Linked DNA regions of Homo sapiens. The protein of the gene in region 3 interacts with the protein of the main gene of each other region in a biochemical or structural test. Each region holds a gene or a part of one and is shown on either strand. Other genes may lie near its edges.

Evidence for each region.
Region 1: the proteins of WAS (region 3) and PLCG1 form a complex in vitro, tested with the Homo sapiens proteins (2 studies listed by BioGRID).
Region 2: the proteins of WAS (region 3) and ACTR2 form a complex in vitro, tested with the Homo sapiens proteins (one study listed by BioGRID).

Annotation. Positions count from the first base shown.
Region 1 is NC_000020.11:41,175,521-41,178,337, reverse strand, and holds the end of PLCG1 (1-phosphatidylinositol 4,5-bisphosphate phosphodiesterase gamma-1), read right to left. Parts: 3' UTR 712-2,817; downstream 1-711. UniProt on the Homo sapiens protein: Mediates the production of the second messenger molecules diacylglycerol (DAG) and inositol 1,4,5-trisphosphate (IP3). Plays an important role in the regulation of intracellular signaling cascades.
Region 2 is NC_000002.12:65,251,745-65,255,577, reverse strand, and holds part of ACTR2 (actin-related protein 2), read right to left. Parts: intron 1,851-3,833; coding exon 1,714-1,850; intron 34-1,713; coding exon 1-33. UniProt on the Homo sapiens protein: ATP-binding component of the Arp2/3 complex, a multiprotein complex that mediates actin polymerization upon stimulation by nucleation-promoting factor (NPF).
Region 3 is NC_000023.11:48,686,799-48,690,398, forward strand, and holds part of WAS (actin nucleation-promoting factor WAS), read left to right. Parts: coding exon 1-157; intron 158-1,255; coding exon 1,256-1,298; intron 1,299-1,501; coding exon 1,502-1,655; intron 1,656-1,861; coding exon 1,862-2,268; intron 2,269-2,521; coding exon 2,522-2,636; intron 2,637-3,351; coding exon of another isoform or gene 3,352-3,600. UniProt on the Homo sapiens protein: Effector protein for Rho-type GTPases that regulates actin filament reorganization via its interaction with the Arp2/3 complex. Important for efficient actin polymerization. Possible regulator of lymphocyte and platelet function.

The DNA.
Region 1 (2,817 bases), on a different chromosome or scaffold from region 3:
TCAGCTCACCAGAGAAGTTCCAACTCACTGTCTTCTGCATTGCTGAGATCACCACACTGGCTTCTACATGAGAAAACTATGATATTTTAGAAATTATGCTAAATAGACAAAGGCAAACAGTCAAACCTGGTATCATCTGGTGAGAGGACACTGGCAAGTTCTTTTCTGTTTCCTGTGAGAGTGCTGAAAAGCATAGCCTGTCATTTGCTGGGGCGGTGTCGGGGGTTAGGGAATATGCATAAGGACCCAGGGGCTTTCTGGAGGAAAAAGACTAAAGCCCCAGCTTCTAAGACCCAAAGCATTTGAATTTTGTTGGGGTGGCCCTGAAGGCCTGGGACAGAAGGAAAAAGGGTCCTTTGAAATGAAATCACCTACAGTGGAGCCAGGCAGTGATTCTGGACACCAGAATAGGAGTCCAGCTTATGTCATGGGGAAGCAGCTGTGTGTGTTGAATCCCAAAAACCAGGTCCTTGGAAACTAGACCAAACTGGCATGCAACTGGCAAAGCCAATCAGCTGAATGCTGTAGTGGGTAGACTCAGGCAGTGACTCACTTGGGATACTATGGGTGGAATTCGCAGGAGCGGCCAGCCAGGGGGGTTGCTGTGGGGTTCCTCCAGGCAGGGAACAGAATGCCTAGATTAACCCCTAAGCACAAGTCCCCTGGGAATTACTAAAGTACCCAGAGAAGACAGGAGTTGCAGTCTGAGACTGTGCTTGATCCATTTAATTAAAATGTGAAGAAGGCATGATCCTTTCATTCACCGAGTTAGTCTGGTGGGATAACCTGAACCTATTTGCTTTCTACCCACCCTCAACAGAACTCACATGGTGAGTGATGGGCTCAAGTTGAAAGACAAGTGAGTGTCTAGGTCCTTAGTGATGTTCAAGCTCTCAGGTGATGTTCAAGATGTGCTTGGTCAGGAGGCAGACCCCTGCCTTTTCTGCTCATGGCCACAGATACTCAACTGAGGTCAGAAACTGCTCCTGCCATCTTCCCGCAGGGCAGTCTTTAGTCCTGTGGCGGGGGCAGAATGCCCCTGACCTTGTAGGCTCTACTTTGTATGTGTACATGTCTGCTGAGCCAAAGCTGTTGAAAGTGAAAGGTCTGTCACTTTGAACCCAGTCTACTTGTCCCTGGTCTGTCAGCCAGAAGGTTCTACTGGTGATGGCAGGAGAACAAGGAGCCTGCAAGGGAGCCCATCTACCTTCTGGTACCACTGACTTCCCTCTCCCGGCCCTGCCTGCTCTTTTGGTTTGTGCTGCCAAAATCAGGGTTTTTCAACCCTTGTTACTCATTTAAATCACCTTGAGAGGTTTTGAACAATACCTATGCTAAGGCCCCGGGTACCAGTATTTTTCAGAAGCTCCCCAAGTGGTGCTAATGTGCTGTTAGGGTTGAGACTCCACAGGTCATAACCCTGAGCTGTCGCACTGTAGGGACACGGCCTGCATGCATGGGATGGGGCAAACAACTCCTGATGCCAAAGCATTCGGCCCCAAGTAAGGGTCTTCCCCACCAACAAACACTCTGCCTTCTGGGTCAATCAACATTTGTCAGGTCTGGAGGAATCTTGAAGTGAAAATGATCTTTAAATTTGCTTGAGAGTTGGCACGTTTTCCACTAGGAAGAACAATCAAAACATTTGCAGTGAGGCAAAGGCAATGTCTTACAGAGCCCAAGAGAGGTGAGCCTCAGGTCTACAAAGCTGCCTTAAGAAAGGCAGAGCTGTCTGTTCCCCAGGTTGTGTTCCAGAAAGACACTTGTTCAGCAAATAGAGATACGTATTGATGAAAACTAAAAGGGTCAACACTAACAAACACGCCAAGGACGTCCTAACCAACGTGGATGGGCCCTAACAGAAGGGCCTACACAGTCCTCTTCCTTCTCTGATAGGAAACCTTTCTCTCCAGGCCATAAAAACCTAGAGAGGAAACATGGATCATGAGGGCCCAGGTGAATTCCCACCCACCACCTTCTTGTGTATGGGAAAAAGCCACCCTCCTCTCTATGAACTGGGACTGTGAAGCTGTAAAAGAAAGTCACACAAGAACCTGAGCACTATCGCTGTTTGATACTGGCTATCATCAGTTCATGTCATCCACGGAACCGGATCTATCTTAAATTTTTTGTGTGGCGTCATTTTTGTTCCATCCCAGCACAGCCAACTATGGAAACAGAGCTTCAGGAAGAGAAGGGCCTTTCAACTGTGTTGAAAGGGCCCAGAGATTTCAGCTGCCAAGTCCTAGAGGCAATCAGAATGGCACCTGGCAGTGTTAACGAACTGAATGCAACATTTTTGAAAGGAGAGGTTTCTGTGGAACTGGAAAGGGGCTCTGGTTGTTTCCAGCTCACCACCAAAACTGGCTGGCCACAAAGAACCCAGGCAGGATGTACTCTGCTCAGACACACCCTCAGAGGGTGGGCAGGAGAGAGTGGACCCACAACTCCTGTTAGCCCAGAGGAGGGGTTACAGCTCTTGCTGCTTAACCTGAGAAATTTCCAGAAATTTCCTACCTGCTTCTACTGCAGAATAATCATCTGGCGACTGTTTCTAGTGAGCATGTCCCATGCAACAGGCTTTCCTGAGCCCCCGAAAGAGCATACAAGTCAAAGGAAAAAGGACATGAGGATGATTTATTTGGCAGTCAGATCTTAAGAGGGCAGCAGAACTAGCAAATGGCCAACCCTGAGCCCAAATGTGGGCAGTAGGTTTGTGTGTGCTGAATGCTGGCTATGCTATGAGGCACCTTTGCGCCCACGGGCCTGGACCCCGGCCTCTGTCCTCAGAGGTGAGGGCTGCCTTTCTAACCTTCC
Region 2 (3,833 bases), on a different chromosome or scaffold from region 3:
GTGGTTGAAGGCGTATCCTCGCAACAGAAGTAGCTGGTACAAAACAATAGCAATAAGTTCATAATACATCTGAATGAGTTCTACTCTGCAAAAGCTAGTAATGCTCATTAAATATGTCACATCAATAACAAACAGAATGGGCAGTGGATCCTCAGCTCCTACTATTTCAGAAGCAGGATTTTATCCGCCATAAAAGGATTTATATTTCAGTTTCAGAGAGGGTAAAAGAATTAACAATTCATAAGTAAGTCAGTAAAATGACTAGAAAAGTCAGTTTTTGAAAAGCACTGCATGAGTACTAATGTTTTGATAGTTTTGATAAACAATCAAAAGTATATTAATGAATAAATATTATTTTAGTACTGGACTCCTGTAGCCTGCAGTTTGCTCACACAATTAATGCCATATTTATGAAATGCCCCCAAGTCTTTAAAAGTTTTATCTTTAGCTTCTAGTACTGTGTCTGGCACATATTAGAAGGACAATAGCATTTGTTTAACGAATGATAAGGGAATTATTGGGATACTCAAAGGTATAATCTCCATTGTTACATTTCTTAAATGCTAGAAAATACTACTATTTTTTTAAAAACCCACTGAGAGAAAAAAAATTACTAGACTTTACAAATAAAAAAAAAATCCTCTAATATTTGAGTCTGTGTTCTAAAGACAACCCCAGAAATTCTGTTAGTTACGCTTTGAATTTTGGCCTAAAATGAGAGTATTATAATTCTCATTAATTTAATCTCCCCTCATGAGGAGGATTACTTTAAATGAGACTGAAGGAACCCAATGTCAAGGTAAAGACAGTGCAACCCAATTTAATGCAGAGACAGGGTTTCTTAATAGCAGCACCACTGACAGACTATACATTGTTTGTTGTGCAGCCAGCCCTATTCATTATAGAATGTTCAGTAGCATTCCTGCCCAGCTCAGACAACCAAAAATGTGTCCAGAAATTGCTAATATCCCCCAGAGGACAGCACTGTCCCCTGGTGAGAACCACTGTCCTGGAGAGGATAGACTGATTATAGAATTGTGGTATAAACAATTTTCTAAATTTTATTTTAATATTAAAAATGATATATGTTAGCAAGTAGACACCTTATGTACTTTCTCCAGTAATGTTTTAAAGAAAATTATAACTAGTTATATTCAGAAATAAACTAAAATAGTAAATATTAAAAACTGCATCTATTCCATGAAAACTACTAAATATTAAAGTCTGGCGTATTTGGGCTGTTTTCCTCAAATATCATTAATTTGCTATCACTGTATTTTGTAGGAAAGGACAAGAGCAGACAACCCAACCAAGATCATGGCTTAAAACATACCTGCTCAAAGAAAGGTTTTATGGCAGAAAAGGCTGCCTGAGCTGTCCAAGAAAGTTTCAAATTAGGGGTCTCTTCTATCCTTGAAATATCTGTCTACTCACTCCTCAGGAATAACAAATATAATTATGTAATGATATAATGTACTCTCATTAGTATACAGAGATCATGTGTGTACACTTTTTTCCTTGTTTTTAATGTATCTTCTTTTTTCTTCATGTGTATAAATCTTATATGAATTTTTATATAAATAAGGGAGGTAATTGGATAATTTCTCTAGTGGTACAGATTTGCTGGAATCCTAAAACGATAGATTCAATTCTGTGTTAAGGTGGTAAACAAATTACAAAATTTAATTTCCATGATATTTTCCTTTCACTTACCTTGATAAGATATCTAGTTATATCCCTCCCAGCAATATCCAGTCTCCTGGTAAGATGAGGGAGAGAAAAGCCTTCATATACTGGGCAAATGTGAGTCACACCATCTCCAGAGTCTACCACTACACCAGTCAATAAACCTGCATAAAAGCCAGGGGGATTTAAATAAAAAGTCAAATCAGGAAAACCAAAGCCAGCGAGTTCCAAATACAGTAGGGAAGCCAAAACAGAAACGTAACCAACTAGAAGCCAGAATTTATTATTTAGTTATTTTGCAGTTTGTTTCTAATGCATAAGTATTAAAGCGAGTGTTCTCTTTTAAGACTTTTAGTCTACTATTATGTGCTGTCCAAGGAGATGAGAAGAAACAGACCCTGAGACTGAGGACTGAAAAACAGGACTTTTTTTTCCTTTTTTTTTTTGAGACAGGGTCTGGCTCTGTCACCCAGGCTGGAGGAGTACAGTGGCTCAATCTAGGCTCACTGCAATCTTCATTTCCTGGGTTCAAGTCATACCTCCCACCTTAGCCTCCTGAGCAGCTGGGACTACAGGCATGCACCACCATGCCTGGCTAATTTTTGTAATTTTTTTGTAGAGACAGAGTTTCGCCATGTTGCCCAAGCTGGTCTCGAACTCCTGGCCTCAAGTGATCTGTCTGCCTTGGCCTCTCAAACTGCTGGGGTTACAGGCGTGAGCCACCACACCCAGCAGAACACGTTCTTAAAGCTCTGTACAATTCTTTATTTTTTTCAACTTAGATAGTTTTGAATATACTACAAATAACATATACTGTGTGTTCTGGAAAAATGCCTATTGATACTAGACAGCTAGAAATCTAAGAAAAATTAAACATGGCTAGCCAAAGCATCACTTTGATTATTCACTGGAACTTATAATAAAAGGCAATGTCAGTTAAACCTCATAATAAAAGAACAGCAAAGAAGCTGCTTTGTTTCCCCTGTTTCCTCAACCTCCTGGGCTCAAGTGATCATCTCACCTCAGCCTCTCAAGTGGCTGGGATTATAGGCATGTGCAACCACACCCAGCTAATTTTACTTTTTATAGAGATAGGGATCTCACTATGTTGCCTAGGCTGGTCTCAAACTCTGGAGATACAGCAATTTGACCACCTTGGCTTCTCAAAGTGCTGGGATTACAGCCATGAGCCACCATACCTGGTCAAAAAAACTTTTTTTATTTATTTTTATTTACATATTTTTTTTGAGACAGAGTCTCACTCTGTCGCCCAGGCTGGAGTGCAATGGCACAATCTCAGCTCACTGCAACCTCTGCCTCCTGGGTTCAAGCGATTCTCCCGCCTCAGCCTCCCAAGTAGCTGGGATTACAGGCACATGCCACCATGCCCAGCTAATTTTTTGTATTTTTTTTTTAGTAGAGACGGGGTTTCACAGTGTTAGTCAGGATGGTCTCGATCTCCTGACCTCGTGATCCACCCACCTCGGCCTCCCAAAGTGCTGGGATTACAGGCGTGAGCCACCACACCCGGCCTAAAACTACCTCCTTTTTAAGTGGATATAATTCCTTGATGCAATAAGCCTCATAAAACTCATATACAGCCCTTGAATGTTGTACTCTTTTAAAAAGAAGAGGATTTCCATTGCAAAAAAGAAAAAAAAAAGGAGGAATTCACACCATCATCAATTCAAAAATACTCCCAGGAACACTGACTAATGCAAGAATTTACATTTTATTTCCCAAAGAGCCCTCCCTACCCACCTCACCTTATTTTCTACCACTTCCATCAGGTCACACACATACTGGCCTTTCTCCAAACACACTTGACCCATTTCCAGTGCCACACTCTTTTCCCACTGGATTATCCCCTGAAGTGCCTAAAAGACTCCTTGGCACATATCTGACAGGCCCAGACATTCTCAGTAAGTTCCTGTTGAATTTATAAGACCATAAAAAAAAAAAAGAGCTCTCCCAACGTGGCCAATATTTTATTTCCAATAAAGAGGGAGGCAGTTGCTAATGGCAATATCAAGAGAATATATAAGTAGTCCCCTCCATTAAACCCACCTCAAAAGTTAGAAATGCACTCCCAAATGTTTACCTTCTCCTTTTTAATCTACTATATATTTGACAGGCATGATTTTATG
Region 3 (3,600 bases):
TCTCCCTGGGGCTGGCGACAGTGGACATCCAGAACCCTGACATCACGAGTTCACGATACCGTGGGCTCCCAGCACCTGGACCTAGCCCAGCTGATAAGAAACGCTCAGGGAAGAAGAAGATCAGCAAAGCTGATATTGGTGCACCCAGTGGATTCAAGTGAGAGCCACTCCCCAGTGGACCCACAGATTCCTGGGGGCAGAGGGGCACATGAACAAGTGGACAGCTGAGTGAATGGAAGGATGGGCAGATGGGCAGATGGCTGGGTGGCTGAGTGGGTAAATGGGTGGTTGGATAGGTAGGTGCAGGGCTGGGTCTAGGGAGAGGTAAATAAGGCACCAAGGGTACAAAATTTAAGGAGGCACTCACTCTCAGAGGCATGCAACTGTAATTCCTGACTCTCAGAGTGAGTGACTCACTTAAATTTTGCACCCTAGGCACCTTACTTGCCTCACCCTGGGCCCACTCTGGGTGGGCTGTTAGGAGAGCAGGTGGGTGGGCAGGTGAACAAATGGATAGATAGATGAGGTAGATGATGGATGAGAAGGGCTGGTGGGTAGGTGGGTGAGTGGATGGGTGGATGGATGGATAAATGAATGGATGAATGAATGGGTTGAAGAATGAATGGATAAGTGGTTGGATGGACAAGTTTATGGGTGGATGGGTTGATGGGAGGTGCGTGGATAGATAGATGGGTGAGTGGATAGGTGTGTGGACAGATTGATATGCAGGCTGATTGGCTCACAGACAAGGTGGATGGGGATGGACAGGTGGACAGATACGTGGATGAATGGACAGTTCAATGGATAAGTGAACAGAAGTGTGTGGTTGCATGGGTAGAAAAATGAGTGGATGGATAGATGGAAAGGTGGGCACATGGGTAGGTGGATGGGTGGATGGACAAGTGTGTGTGAGGACAGACTGGTGGACAAATGGGTGAACAGACATATGTGGGCAGATAGTTGCAGAGACAGATGTATGGACAGATCAGTAGTCCAACAGATGAATGTGAATGAATAGGTGGACAAATGCATGGGATAGATGGGGAAAGAGGGATGGGTGGATGGATCAGCACCACAAACTATGGAGCCCTTCTAATTCCATAACTCCTGCCTATACTCATTCACTCATTCAGTCTCATTCATTAATTCTGGCCCCTCAGAGTCTCTTTGGGCAGGAGAGGGCAAGAGGGTTTCACTATGAAGGGAGGGAAGGAAGGGCAGTGAGGATTCACTGGAGTCTCTTCACCTCTCCCAGGCATGTCAGCCACGTGGGGTGGGACCCCCAGAATGGATTTGACGTGAGTAACTTCAGAGTCTCTTGGACTCCACTAAACTTCCACCCACCCTTCCAAAGACCACTGCTGAGACCCCACCCCCAGATCGTGCCCTTCCCACACCCCTCTCAGATCCCTTGCTGGGATGGACCCAACGACAATCCATGTCGCTTGTCTCCTCGCCTTATTCCTCTACTCCTGCCCCTGGCCTTTTTCCTCCTGGGCAGGTGAACAACCTCGACCCAGATCTGCGGAGTCTGTTCTCCAGGGCAGGAATCAGCGAGGCCCAGCTCACCGACGCCGAGACCTCTAAACTTATCTACGACTTCATTGAGGACCAGGGTGGGCTGGAGGCTGTGCGGCAGGAGATGAGGCGCCAGGGTGAGACCCTGCTTCCATACGCTCCCTTCTCTAGCCCAAGCAGCTCATAGCTAAGATACGCACTAAGTCACTCAGTCCTTATGGGAGCACCTATACTGCTTCAGTCAGGAGTTGGTCAGTGGGGGTACCCATTTTACAAATGAGCAAAACTGAGGCTCAGAAGAAATCAATGAGAGTTACAGCTATGTGTTATACCCCCTCCACAGAGCCACTTCCGCCGCCCCCACCGCCATCTCGAGGAGGGAACCAGCTCCCCCGGCCCCCTATTGTGGGGGGTAACAAGGGTCGTTCTGGTCCACTGCCCCCTGTACCTTTGGGGATTGCCCCACCCCCACCAACACCCCGGGGACCCCCACCCCCAGGCCGAGGGGGCCCTCCACCACCACCCCCTCCAGCTACTGGACGTTCTGGACCACTGCCCCCTCCACCCCCTGGAGCTGGTGGGCCACCCATGCCACCACCACCGCCACCACCGCCACCGCCGCCCAGCTCCGGGAATGGACCAGCCCCTCCCCCACTCCCTCCTGCTCTGGTGCCTGCCGGGGGCCTGGCCCCTGGTGGGGGTCGGGGAGCGCTTTTGGATCAAATCCGGCAGGGAATTCAGCTGAACAAGGTGAGGACAGGCAGGATGGAGGATTGGGGGTCTAGGACTCTGGGGTGTCCCGTCTAAGTCAGGATACTGGGGGGCTGAGGCCAGGACTGAGGAGAGTGCCAGGCCTTAGGGATTCAGTGATAGGGTTGAAAGGTTGGTGGGAAGCCTTGAAGGGGACTGGAGTGTGTGGGAGAGAAAATATTGATGGAGGGGCGGGGAGAAATGCTCCTTTCCCAGGCCCTAAGCCCTCTGTGCTGATCCCTGCCTGCTGCAGACCCCTGGGGCCCCAGAGAGCTCAGCGCTGCAGCCACCACCTCAGAGCTCAGAGGGACTGGTGGGGGCCCTGATGCACGTGATGCAGAAGAGAAGCAGAGCCATCCACTCCTCCGGTGAGCTGATCCTGCCGGGGCCTCAAACCTGGCTCCCAGGGCTAGCACTGGCCTCAAAACAATCCCAGCAGTCACCACCAATAGTGACATCAGCCCCATCTGTTTGACAGCATTAACATGAATCTTGTGTCAGCCTCGTTTTTGACAATGTTAACATTAAGTCATTATGTGACAATAATATAATTAACTCCAACTTTGACAGTAATATTAACATTAATGCCAGGGTGTGTCCACAATATTAATGTCATTCCCACATGTTCAGTACTATTAACATCAGCTGGCCGGCGCGGTGGCTCATGCCTGTAATCCAGGAACTTTGGGAGGCTAAGGCAGGAGGATCACTTGAGCCCAGGAGTTCGAGACCAGCCTGGGCAATATAGTGAGACCTCGTTTCCATAAAAACTAAATTCAAAAAAAGTAGTCAAGCATAGTGGTGTGTGCCTGTGGTCCCAGCTACTTGGGAGGCTGAGGTGGGAGGATTGCTTGACCCTGGGAGGTCAAGGCAGCAGTGATCCATGATTGTGCCACTGCACTCCAGCCTGGGTGACAGAGATCCTATCTCAAAAAAAAAAAAAATTAACCCATTATGTGATGACAATATTATGAAGAACACTATTGTTGACAATATTAATTTTAATTCCATGTATTAACAGATTTACATTAATTCATTATGACGTAACCTAATCTAATCTTTTAAAAAATTTTTTTGAAACAGGGTCTCGCTCTGTGTCCCAGGCTGGAGTACAGTGGTGCAATCATGGCTCAGTGCAGCCTCAACCTCCCAGGCTCAAGCGATCCTCCCGCCTCAGCTCCCAAAGTAGCTGGGACTACAGGCGTGTGCCACCATACCTGGCTAATTTTTGGTGTTTTTTTGGTAGTGATGAGCTCTCACTACCAAGCTCTCACTACTCTCATGTTGCCCAGGCTGCTCTGCAACTCCAGGGCTCAAGCGATCTGCCCCGCC